3 linked regions of the Homo sapiens genome follow. The protein of the gene in region 2 interacts with the protein of the main gene of each other region in a pairwise test. Each region holds a gene or a part of one and is shown on either strand. Other genes may lie near its edges. The genes, in order: TVP23B, SLC35H1 and PEX16.

Region 1 (3,820 bases), on a different chromosome or scaffold from region 2:
ATGCCATGGCAACATCAGGAAGTTACTCTCTATGATCTAAAAGGGGAGGAATGAATAATCCACCCCTTGTTAACCATACCACTAAGAAATACCCATAAAAATGGGCCACCAGCAGCCCTCCAGGTTGCTCTATGGAGTAGCCACTCCTTTACTTTCTTAATAAACTTGCTTTCACTTTGCACTGTGGACTCACCCTGAATTCCTTCTTGCCTGATCCAAGACTTTTTTTGTTTTGTTTGAGACGGAGTCTCCCTCTGTAGCCAGGCTGGATGGAGTGCAGTGGCCCGCGGCTCACTGCAACCTCAGCCTCCCCAGTTCAAGCGATTCTCCTGCCTCAGCCTCCCGAGTAGCTGGGACTACAGGCGTGCACCATCACGCCCAACTAATTTTTGTATTTTTAGTAGAGACAGGGTTTCACCAAGTTGGCCAGGATGGTCTCGATCTCTTGACCTCATGATCCACCCACCTCGTCCTCCCAAAGTGCTGGGATTACAGGCCTGAGTCACCACGCCCGGCCAAGGACCCTCTTTTCGGGTCTGGATCGGGACACCTTTCCTGTAATACAGCTGAATTTAACCATTATTAGATTTTCTCCACTCAAGGCATCTCCTCATAAGCAGTCTTTCCTGACCATAAATCTTAGTTGTCCTATCCTCAGACACTTGTTATTTCATCACCCTGCCTTTGCAATTATCTGAAAATATCTTTGGTTATACAATTTATCGTGTCTCCCCACCCAACCCCCATCTCCTAGAACCCACTTCCCTAACCCAAAAATACGGGGCAAGAAACCTGTCTGTACTGGTCACAACCCTATCCCTGGGCCTACAACCGTGTCTGAGTCATAGTAATCCCTCAACAAATTTTGTGTGAACCGAAAGAAAAAAACACTTAAGACAATCTAAGTGACCATAAACAGTAGTTTTTTCTAAAAATATTATTAATCTTACGAGTCTCTGGTTGCCAACATGTGGACTACAATTAACTCTAAGAGCACAAAGGAGAGAATCACCAACAACATTAGTTTGGAAACAGCAATTTGAAAGCGAGGCTCTGGCGGTGTCGCCGATTCCTACAAAATAGCATCGCACCCCTGGGTGTCAGGAAGCTAAGAGGCCCGCAGGCCGCTCCTCCTCAACTCCACCCCGGCAATAAGGGTTGAGGAAAGAGAGACCCCCACTCGCGCTGGTTAACAATGGGCGTCCCCACAGCCGCAAGAAGTACTTGCTCTGCGCCGCACGGGTCACGCCGCCCCCAGCGGCCTCAGAACCCCCAGCAGCCCTCCTCAGACAACTACCCACAGCCCTCCACTCCCGGCCGCCCCGCTCCTCCTCGAGTTCGAGTAGCGGGCGCGGGGGACGCGGGCTCCAGTCCCACGGAACCTGCAGAGCCAGTCCCAGGAGCCGCCACCCTCCCAGCGAGCCCTCAGCCCCTCACCTGCTGCAACATGGCGGCCCTACGCCAGCCCTACTTCCGGGAGCCACGTCAGCGCAGCAGCGTACGGGTCCGGGTCGGAACTGAGGCGACCCGTCACCAAGGGCCAGCAGGGACCACTGTAAGAGCCTCAGTCCGGCCTCACTTCCGCTTTGAGGGAGCAAATCCAGGGGCGGGGCGAGCGGGGGCGGGGCGAGCGGCCCGGACACGGCGGAGGCGGAGCCTGGAGCAGGAGCGAAAGGGAAAGGTATTGGGGCCACAGTGGGCTCTAAGTGGAAAGCTTCATGGTCTGTTTTACGGAAGTATTTGCTGTCCACCCAATGCAAATTCTAAAGTCGTTCCCCCAGTGTCGCTGCCCCGAATGCAGGGGGGCGGGGTTTTATTGTATAATATAATTTTCTTTAAATATTTTACAAAGACTTACTCCTGTACAGTATTACTTTTGTACTTTAAATTGTAGAAGCAACTTTTTAAAATATGTTCTTGCAGAGAAGTAAAACGTTAAGAAAAACAAGGCAGGAGGACTCTAGAGTAACTAATGGACGGTATTATTATGGGAGGTATAAACTTAGACGCCAGGAGTTGAGACCTTGCGCCCTGGAGCTTAGGCGCCTGGGAACTCTATTGCCAATCATATCACCAACCTTTATGTACTTCTTTCATCAGTTGTAAAGTGGGGGTGATAATGGTTTCCTTACAGTGTAAGTATCTAGTAAATGGGAGACGTTATACTTACTACAGTTTTAAGTCCAGCCGCTCATGCTGTGATCTTGCCTGAACAAAGGATGTGAAATTAAGGGGCGTTAAGTCATCTTTGAAGCGGTGATGATGACAATATCCTATCTGTCTGGCCGAGTCAGACTGCTGTTGGCATAGTGGTATTTGCACGTGTCCTTAATTGAAGGGATTCTATTAAAATCACAAATTTTACGTGGCTGATTGCCAGTGCCATTTAAAACCTGATATTCTAATAATGAAAGGGGGAAAACACACACACGCGTTTCTAAAGGCAAGACATTTCGGCAGCACAATTGCATTCGTGCCCTTGGAGATGAAAAGCTAACAAATTTGGGGCCTGTACGTCCAGCCTGCCCATGGCAGGTTTTCAGTGGTCCACTCAGTGCTGTGGAGTTTTGTGTTGTTTTTCGTAGTTTTTGGTTTTTTAAGACATTGTGTTTGAATTCATTATCGTCTTTTAATTTTTAATAGCTAATTTTTAAAGCTAATTTTGTATTTTTAGTAGAAACGAGGTTTCACCACGATGGTCAGGCTGGTATCAAACTCCTGATCTCAGGTGAGCCACCCGCCTCAGTCTCCCAAAGTGCTGGGACTACAGGCGTGAGCCACCGCACCTGGTCAAGGCTTGAACTTTCTAATGGGCCATAGCTCTTGTAGTGGGCTGCACTCTTCTAAATTACCTGGTCCCTGCACCATAGTCCAAAGGTTTAAGCAGAAACCTCAATGCACTTGATGTTACTGGCCCTCTTTGTACAGAGGATAAATATGCTAATTCTCTTCCTTAGGAGTTAGCCCTGAGAAGGAAAAGCTCAATGTTGTCAAATGCAACAGGTCCACCCCACTGAGGGCTTCCCCTTTTAAATTCTTAATGGGTTTTATCAGGCTTCTGTGCAAAAATACCAGAAAACACCAATGCATGACCCTGATATAATCCCATAACTTCATTTGCCAGAAGAACTAATAGCACTAAATTGGTAGTGATGAATGGTATCTAATTTCCAGTGATCATCTCCCCATCCCCCATCAACGAAACTGGGCTTTCCTAATGCTCACTAAATTGTTTTCAGTGGGACTACAGATGCTAATCTCGCCCAACCTCCTTCTGTTTTCTTATTTTGATGATATCAAATATTTGGCTCAGAGGAAGATAACTGGGAGTTCCCACATTAATTACCAGGAAGAAACAGTCAAAAAAAAAAAAAAAAAGGCCAAATAGCAACATCCGCTTGGCTTTCTGTTTATTGTAAAACATTGTAATTTCCCAAGGCTGGTTTAGATAAATACATTTTGTCCAAGTTCAGGGGCCGCTGTTTTCCCTTGCTTCGTGAAATTATCAATAGGCAGGCCTTTGATCTTCCTGATCCATGCAGCTTTGCTGACTTTTCCTGGATCAACCACTCCAGTGGACTCCCTGGCCTGATATTCCTTCATCTTGGCTTCCTGGTGCTCCTTCTCCTCCTTCACGGTCAACAGCACGAACTCAGTGTTCACTCTAAAAGGATCAAGGGCTGTATAGATGCGAGGCCGTTCTTTCTTAAGAGACAGGGTGGCTGTGCCCACTTGTGGAGCTAGCATGCGGTTTGGTTTAATGACCTGCATACTGGTCAGGGGACCCGTACTGCACACAGCCCTTTCAATTGAACTGGTC
Region 2 (3,600 bases):
GCTTCCCTCCATCTTCCTAACTGTAACTTGGGCAGCATGGTTTAGTGCTTAAGAGTGTGGGCTTTGGAGTTAGACACTGAGAATCAAATCCTGGTGTCCCTACTCACTACTGTGTGACCCTAAGTTACTTGACCTCTGGACTCAGTTTCTCCAACTGTAAAGTGGCATCAGGTACAGCATTAAATGCTGGCTCATGGTAGAGGCTTACTCCCCTCCTGGTCCCCTTAACAGTGAAACTTCCCCAGAGGACCCCGCACTGCCAGTCCAACTCCTTCACCCCCTGCTCTCACTTCAGCCCATCTCCACTGCTCCAATGAGTCACCACACCCTCCTCCCTGCTGCCCCTTCGAAGGCTTAGTCTCTATTCTTTTTGTTGTTGTTGTTGTTTTGAGATGGAGTTTCAAGGCTGGAGTGCAATGGCGTGATCTCGGCTCACCGCAAACTCCGCCTCACGGGTTCAAGTGATTCTCCCGCCTCAGGCTCCCGAGGAGCTGGGAATACAGGCATGTGCCACCATGCCCGGCTAATTTTGTATTTTTAGTGGAGACAGGGTTTCTCCATGTTGGTCAGGCTGGTCTCGAACTCCCGGCCTCAGGTGATCTGCCCGCCTTGGCCTCCCAAAGTTCTGGGATTACAGGCGTGAGCCACCGTGCCGGGCCGGCTTAGTCTCTATTCTTACCTTACACAATGGATCACTTCCTCCTCCTAGAAAAAACCTTCTCTTGGGTGCCACGATACCACATTCTCCTGGTTTTTCTTCTGCTTTTCTGGACTCCTTATTGGTCTTTTTTGCTGGCACCTTCTTGTCAACTCAATCTATAAAAATTGGGTGCCTAAAGCTTGGAACCTGGCTTCTCTTCTCTCTTAAATCTTACCCTACATAATCTCATCCTACCCAATCCACTTGCCAATGATTTCTAAATTCTTTACATCAGCCCTGACCTTTTCTGTATCAGACTCATATATCTAACTGCCTATTTGGTAGCTGCACTCCAAATATCTAAAACTTAAGATGCCCTAAGAAGATTTCGTAATTATTTCTCACGCTCCCAATCTATCCCAAAGTCATTTAGTAAATGCCAGCATAATACACTTGGTTACTTAAGCCAAAACCAAAAATCTATGATGAAGTCATCTTTGACCACTTATTTCTGTCATTTCTCAAATCCTGCCCTGTCAGTTCCACTTTCAATACACTTCTTGACCCCTCTACTTCTCTTCCTCTCCATTCCCACTACCACAGTCTAAGCCACAATTATCTTTCACCTGCTGACTGCCACTGGTCTAACTGGTCTCCCTGTTTCCTCTTTCGCCCCTAAGGCCTGGAATCTATAAAGCAGCCAGAGAGATGGCACACGAAACAGATCATGCCCTAAGGCTAAGCCCAGCTCCTCAGCCTGGTCCACAAGGAAGGCCTCTGTAACCTCATTCTTCTGCCACTGGTCCCAGCACCCGCCACAGCGGCCCCCTGCCACGTGTCAAACACATCAAACCTGTGTTTTTCTTTACTTGCTGCTCTTCCTGCCTTCAGCTCCCTTCCGCAGACCTCCGCTTGGCTGAATACTTTCTCCAATGCCCCACCCCTCCCAATCCTCGTGGCACTCCCACCTCTGACGTTTCCTTGTTTGCTCACGTGTTTACTGCCCGCCCCAATCCCACCGCGGGAAGCAGCCCCTCAGAGGGCAGGGCCGTGTCCGATTCCGGCCCGGGTCCCGCACCCAGGACGTCGCAGGTGCTCAGGAAATACCAGATGAGCCGGCGTCCGGCAGGTGCCTTGCAGGAGGGCGCTTGGAGACCCCTGCCCCCTCCACAGACGGCGAAACTGAGGCCCGGGGAGGGGCAGGGGCGTGGCGTGCCCCATGTCAACCCGCGCAGATCCCGGGTGGGGAGCCCGCTTCCCTTCTCCAGCCCCGGCCCCCCAGCCTCTGGGAGTGCGCCGGGAGGCCGGCCGCACACCCACTCACCTCGGCCCTGGGAGCTCCAGGCCGGAATCTCCCCACCGGAAGTGCGAGGCCGGATGCCGCCGCCGAACCGCGGCACGGGCGGTAACTTCCGCCGGAAGCTACCCAGGGGCTGGGCGGAGCCGGGGCGAAAAGGCGGGGCGGGGCAGCACGGGGGCGGGGCGTCTGTTGTGGTCGGGTTCTGAGGTGGTCTGGTCTTTCTGAGGTACAGCGTAGTTTTGTCCTCCGCGAAGTCCCTCAGGCTCAGAGCACAGCCGTGTAATTGTCTGCGTCTCTCCCGCGCTCAATCAGGGGCTTGCTTTGGAACCCCGGTGCCTGCTAGTGTTCTGCATACAGTGAGCATCCAAAAAATGGTAACTTGTTTACTTTTACTGAACAAATTGTTTTTCTTATGTCCAGTCTAATGCTGGGCAACCATGGAATGAACCACGAAGATAAGTATCTCATGGGCTTTTTCTTCTGGGAGCTCAGGCCAGCTGGGGCCATTACAACTTAAAACTTGGGCGATCCAGAAGTAATACGAAACATTTGTGAAATATTTTCTGTATGAAACTTTCTAAGAATTATCTCAACTTCAATAGGTTGAGTAGGGAGAGAGCATCCCAGATAGAGGAAATGGGAGAATCCTAAAGGAGGGTGAGAAAGCTCCAGCCGTGCCTGGGGCTCACAGGTTGTTTGTAACTGTGGTGGTTAAAGTAGCCAAGAGGCAGGTTGCAGTGGCCCCAAAATGCCAGCCTAGGGAGTTCAGATTTTCTTCATCTTGCGGGATGGATTAAAAGGGCAGCATTTGCAGTCAAGAACATTAGGCCAGGGCAAGCTAGGGTTGCACATTCAGACCCAGTTTTGTGCCTTTCGCCCTCCTCTAGCCTCCTCCTGGGCTCTCTGGCAGTAAGACCAGCTGCAAACATGGATCCTTACAAGTGACTCAGCTGGGATCCCTGGCCCCTCTGAACAGAAGGCTCAAGGCCAGAGTGTAAGCAGTGTTTTATGCAAACTGCGGCTGTCACCGCCGCCAGCTGGCATCATGCAGGCATTAGTTCATTCAGTGCTTACCAAGCACCTACAATGGTACCCATCACTGCCCAAGGTCTTGGCTTTATTCAGTCCTCAGGCTTGTATTGCATGCACTTTCTATGCCTTTTGAAAGAGCCTGTCCTCACACCCTTCTCTCTCAGAGGCAAGAGATCTATTTTCATCACCACCCTCATTTAAGTCTCCCAGCTACCAAGGCCAAGGTTTGGAGCAACAGCCTAAAACACCAGCTGGAAGGCTGGGCACTATGCACAGGCAACACACAGGGTAAAGAGCGTGTCTTCTTTGTAAGGCACAAGTACTCGAGCTGTTCCCTGGCTGTGTCCCTGGCAGGGAGAAGAGGGAGGATGTGTTCATGGGGGTGTACAGTATGCCTTACCTTGCTGTACCCAGCAGGGTTGAGCAGAAAACGCTTCGTCCCAGTGCAGCAATCTGTGAACACTCTTAACCAGCAGGTGTGTGTCTGTGTGTGTGTATGTGTGGGAGGAGCGAATGATGAGGAGGAAGGGACTCTTGGAAGGTGACTAAGGGCTCCAGCTGGAGCTCTCCAGAGTCTCCCAGATACATGGAGATCAAGTCTTGTCAAGGTGAAATCTTCACCATTGGG
Region 3 (3,820 bases), on a different chromosome or scaffold from region 2:
AGCTCAGCTTCGGGGTGGCCGCTGACCCACAACACCTCCTCCCATTCCTCTTTCCCCTTCCACCGACATCCAACACTGAAGGCCTCTAGAGGGTCGCATGTGGAGCAGCGCCCTGGCAGTATGGTGGAGGGTCCAGGGAGGACAACCCCACCCTGCCCTCGGGAAGCCCCCCAGTCTGGCAGAAGTGCTGGGCTGCATGGAAACCTCACAAGCCACCAATGAGAGTAGTCAGGACCTTGGTAGGGGACACAGTACTGAAGAGGGCACATTTTGGTTCAGGGGAAGGGGCAAGGCCCAAGGCCCTGATTTTTAAGACAGGAGGGTTTTCCACAGGGGAACTCGGGTGAGATGAGGATGCTGATGACAATACATAGCGCTACGTGCTTACTACACCCCACGCACTGCTGTACGCGTTAGTCACTGAACCCCTACAAAGTGGGTACTGTCATCATCCCCATCTTACAGGTGAGGAAATGAGGCACAGGCGCATCAAATAACTTGCCCAAGGCTACACATCTGGAAGGCGGCCTGACTCCTTATATGTCTGTCTGAGCAGCAAGAAAAGAGGAAGCCTGGGGGCCGGGTGTGGTGGCTCATGCCTATAATCCCAGCGCTTTGGGAGGCCAAGGCGGGCAGATCAATTGTGGTCAGGAGTTCGAGACGAGCCTGACCAACATGGAGAAACCCCATCTCTACTAAAAAATACAAAATTAGCCGGGCGTGGTGGCGCGCACCTGTAATCCCAGCTACTTGGGAAGCTGAGGCAGGAGAATTGCTTGAACCCGGGAGGCAGAGGTTGCGGTGAGCCGAGATCACGCCATTGCACTCCAGCCTGGGCAACGTGAGTGAAACTCCGTCCCAAAAAACAAAAGAAAAGAAAAGAAGAAGGCTGGCTGGGTGCAGTGGCTCCACCTATAATCCCAGCACTTTAGGAGGCCAAGGCGGGCCTTTGTTTCCCTAAAGGACAGGGAGCAGGGTCCAGAGAGGTGCCAGGGTGTGGTCCAGAAGGAGCAGCCTTACTCTTTTTTCTGTTTTAAAAAAAAGATGGGTCAGGCCAGGCGCGGTGGCTCACGCCTGTAATCCCAGAACTTTGGGAGGCCGAGGCAGGCGGATCACGAGGTCAGGAGATCGAGACCATCCTGGTTAACACGGTGAAACCCCATCTCTACTAAAAAATCAAAAAAAATTAGCCAGGCATGGTAATGGGCGCCTATAGTCCCAGCTACTCAGGAGTTGAGACAGGAGAATGGCATGAACCCGGGAGGCAGAGCTTGCAGTGAGCCAAGATTGCACCACTACACTCCAGCCTAGGCAGGCAACAGAGCCAGACTCCATCTCAAAAACAAACAAACAAAAAAAGACAGTGTCTCGCTCTGTCACCCAGACTGGAGTGCAGTCGCGCGATCTCGACTCACTGCAACCTCTGCCTCCTGGGTTCAAGCGATTCTCCTGCCTCAGCCTCCTGAATAGCTGGGACTACAGGCGTGTGCCATCACACCTGGCTAATTTTTGTATTTTTAGTAAAGACAGGGTTTCACCATGTTAGCCAGGATGGTCTCTACCTCCCGACCTTGTGATCCGCCCGCCTCGGCCTCCCAAAGTGTTGGGATTACAGGTGTGAGGCATCGTGCCTGGCTAAACTATGCCAGTTTTGTTTTTTTTTTTCTGTTTTGTTTTTTTGAGACAGGGACTTACTCTGTCACCCAGGCTAGAGTGGGATGGAGTGATCATAACTCACTGCAGCCTCAGCCTCCTGGCCTGATCCTCATGCCTCAGCTTCCTGAGTAGCTAGGACTTACAGGCGCACACCACCATGTCTGGCTAATTATTATTATTTTTTTTTTTTTTTTGTAGAATTGGGTTGCCCAGGCTGGTCTCGAACTCCTGGCCTCAAGCCAACCTCCTGCCTTGGCCTCCTAAAGTGCTAGGATTATAGGTGTGAGCCACTGCTGCCCAGCCTATGCCAGTTTTTAAGCTATTATTAGGTCCTAGACAAAGGGGGTCCCGGGAGCCTTGTCTGCCTCACAGTCCCAGCCACTGCACAGGGTTTCCCCCTGTCAGACTGTGGTCTAACCTCAAGCAGTCATAGTGGCAGGCCTGTGGAAGAACTAGTCCCAAGCTGCCCCCTGCTCAACCCAGCAGGCCTCTCTCAGGCTGGGAGCTCTGGACCCTCGCAGGTGACTGAGTGGGGGCTGGGCCAGGCAGGGAAGGCCAGGGGAGATCCTGGGTTTGGGATCTAGCTCTACCACTGGCTAGCTGGGTGTCTTTAAGTTGCCCAACCTCCTTGAACCTCCAGGTCCTCCTCTGAGAAGTGAGGATAAGCCAAACTATTTGGCAGGAAGAAGTGGAAATGAGCTAGAGGCCATGGGCGCCCGCCCTGTCGCCATCCCTGTGGGCCACCTGGCAATGCCCTCAGCCCTGCCCTCAGTGCCTCTCCTGCCAACCAATGTTTAAGTTCCTGCTCAAGTGGCCTGATGGCCCAGAGAGCTCTGCGGGCGGGACTGGGCTGGCATCTGGTGACTGCCACCCGGACAACACACAGTGCTTGGTGAACCCTGGATGAGGCGTGGGGAAGGGAAGGCGCCAGCAGGGACCGGAGCACCAGTGCCCGCTTGCCAGCCCTCTCCCTGGCTCAGGGTGTCCTGGGTGCTTACTCGGAGAAGCGGTCATAGAAAGGAGAGCGCAGCAGGTAGTAGAGCAGCAGGATGGTCCGGCGCCGCAGCTCCCGCCGCTCCCTCCGGGTCAGGCCCTTTCTGTCACTCAGGAGGCTCAGGCTGGGAGGCAGGGAGGACATGGTCAGGGCCAGGGGCATGATCTAGGCCCACGGAAGGGGAGGAGCCATGGGCTGGGTGTCCAGAGGGGCAGCAACAGGAGGAGCAGGGGCCGCTGCCACCCCGCCTATGTGAGGCCAGGATTATAGCAGAAAGCCCAGTGGAGAGTGAAGCCCCAGGCAGGCCCAGGCTCACCTGGTCACGTCCACAACACCAGCCAAGAGCCAGGGTTTCCACGACCTCTGACCCCACAGGCCCAGGCTGAGCACTGACGGCCAAGGCGTCAAGGATGTCTCCAGCACAGGGGCCTTGCTCAGCACACTCCCCACTCAATCCCCAGCCCACAGTGCCAGCCCTATCCTGCCCCGCGCTAAGGATACAGTGCAGCAGCGGCCGGGCAATGTACAAAAACTCTGCGATGGTCTCCTGCAGCCCCAGGGGGGTGGGGGTCGCACTCAGCTCCTCGTGATGCTGCTGCTGCCGTCCCTCCCGCTGCTGGGGAGCTCCCCAGTGCCTGGAGTGCAGGGACGGCGCTAGAACACAAGGGCGGCAGATGAGCGAGCCAGGCCCAGGCTGGGGCAGGGGAAGGTGGCTGCTGACCAAAGCCAGTCCCTCAAGCCCAGGCAGACAGCACCTAGGTGCCCAGGCCAGCCACATCCTCCACTTACTGTTCTGGAGGGTTCGCACCACCCGGTTTGACCGCTTCCCCACGTAGGACTGCTCATGGTTGCCAGGGCTGTGGTCACCATCTAGCAGGGATAGACAGAAGGCCATACAGTCAGAGGGACATGCTTCCAGCGGAGCCTGCAAAGAACGTGTGCAGTGAATGCTCAGGAGCTAAGGGGAGAACAGATGAGCTTGTACTATGGCAACAGCTGAGTCAAGGGAACTACAAGCAGGGTGGCGGCTCAGCACAAGACCCGTCCACAGAGGAAAGCACTCTGCAGCCCTCCCTAGCCTGGGGAAAGCTCAGCATAGCTGTGGCCAGAGCCAGCCTCCCGGAACCCATGGACAGGCAAGGCAGGGAAGGCCCAGCCTGACCACATCTA

Evidence for each region.
Region 1: the proteins of SLC35H1 (region 2) and TVP23B interact in binary tests that used the Homo sapiens proteins (3 or more experiments, as listed by UniProt).
Region 3: the proteins of SLC35H1 (region 2) and PEX16 interact in binary tests that used the Homo sapiens proteins (3 or more experiments, as listed by UniProt).

Annotation. Positions count from the first base shown.
Region 1 is NC_000017.11:18,778,923-18,782,742, reverse strand, and holds the start of TVP23B (Golgi apparatus membrane protein TVP23 homolog B), read right to left. Parts: upstream 1,561-3,820; 5' UTR 1,450-1,560; coding exon 1,438-1,449; intron 1,430-1,437; exon of another isoform or gene 194-1,429; intron 1-193. Other genes in the region: FBXW10 (F-box/WD repeat-containing protein 10), read right to left, coding at 3,445-3,820.
Region 2 is NC_000020.11:46,362,407-46,366,006, forward strand, and holds the start of SLC35H1 (solute carrier family 35 member C2), read right to left. Parts: upstream 2,020-3,600; 5' UTR 1,965-2,019; intron 817-1,964; exon of another isoform or gene 680-816; intron 1-679.
Region 3 is NC_000011.10:45,911,165-45,914,984, forward strand, and holds part of PEX16 (peroxisomal biogenesis factor 16), read right to left. Parts: intron 3,521-3,820; coding exon 3,440-3,520; intron 3,305-3,439; coding exon 3,152-3,304; intron 3,040-3,151; coding exon 2,967-3,039; intron 2,775-2,966; coding exon 2,655-2,774; intron 1-2,654. UniProt on the Homo sapiens protein: Required for peroxisome membrane biogenesis. May play a role in early stages of peroxisome assembly. Can recruit other peroxisomal proteins, such as PEX3 and PMP34, to de novo peroxisomes derived from the endoplasmic reticulum (ER).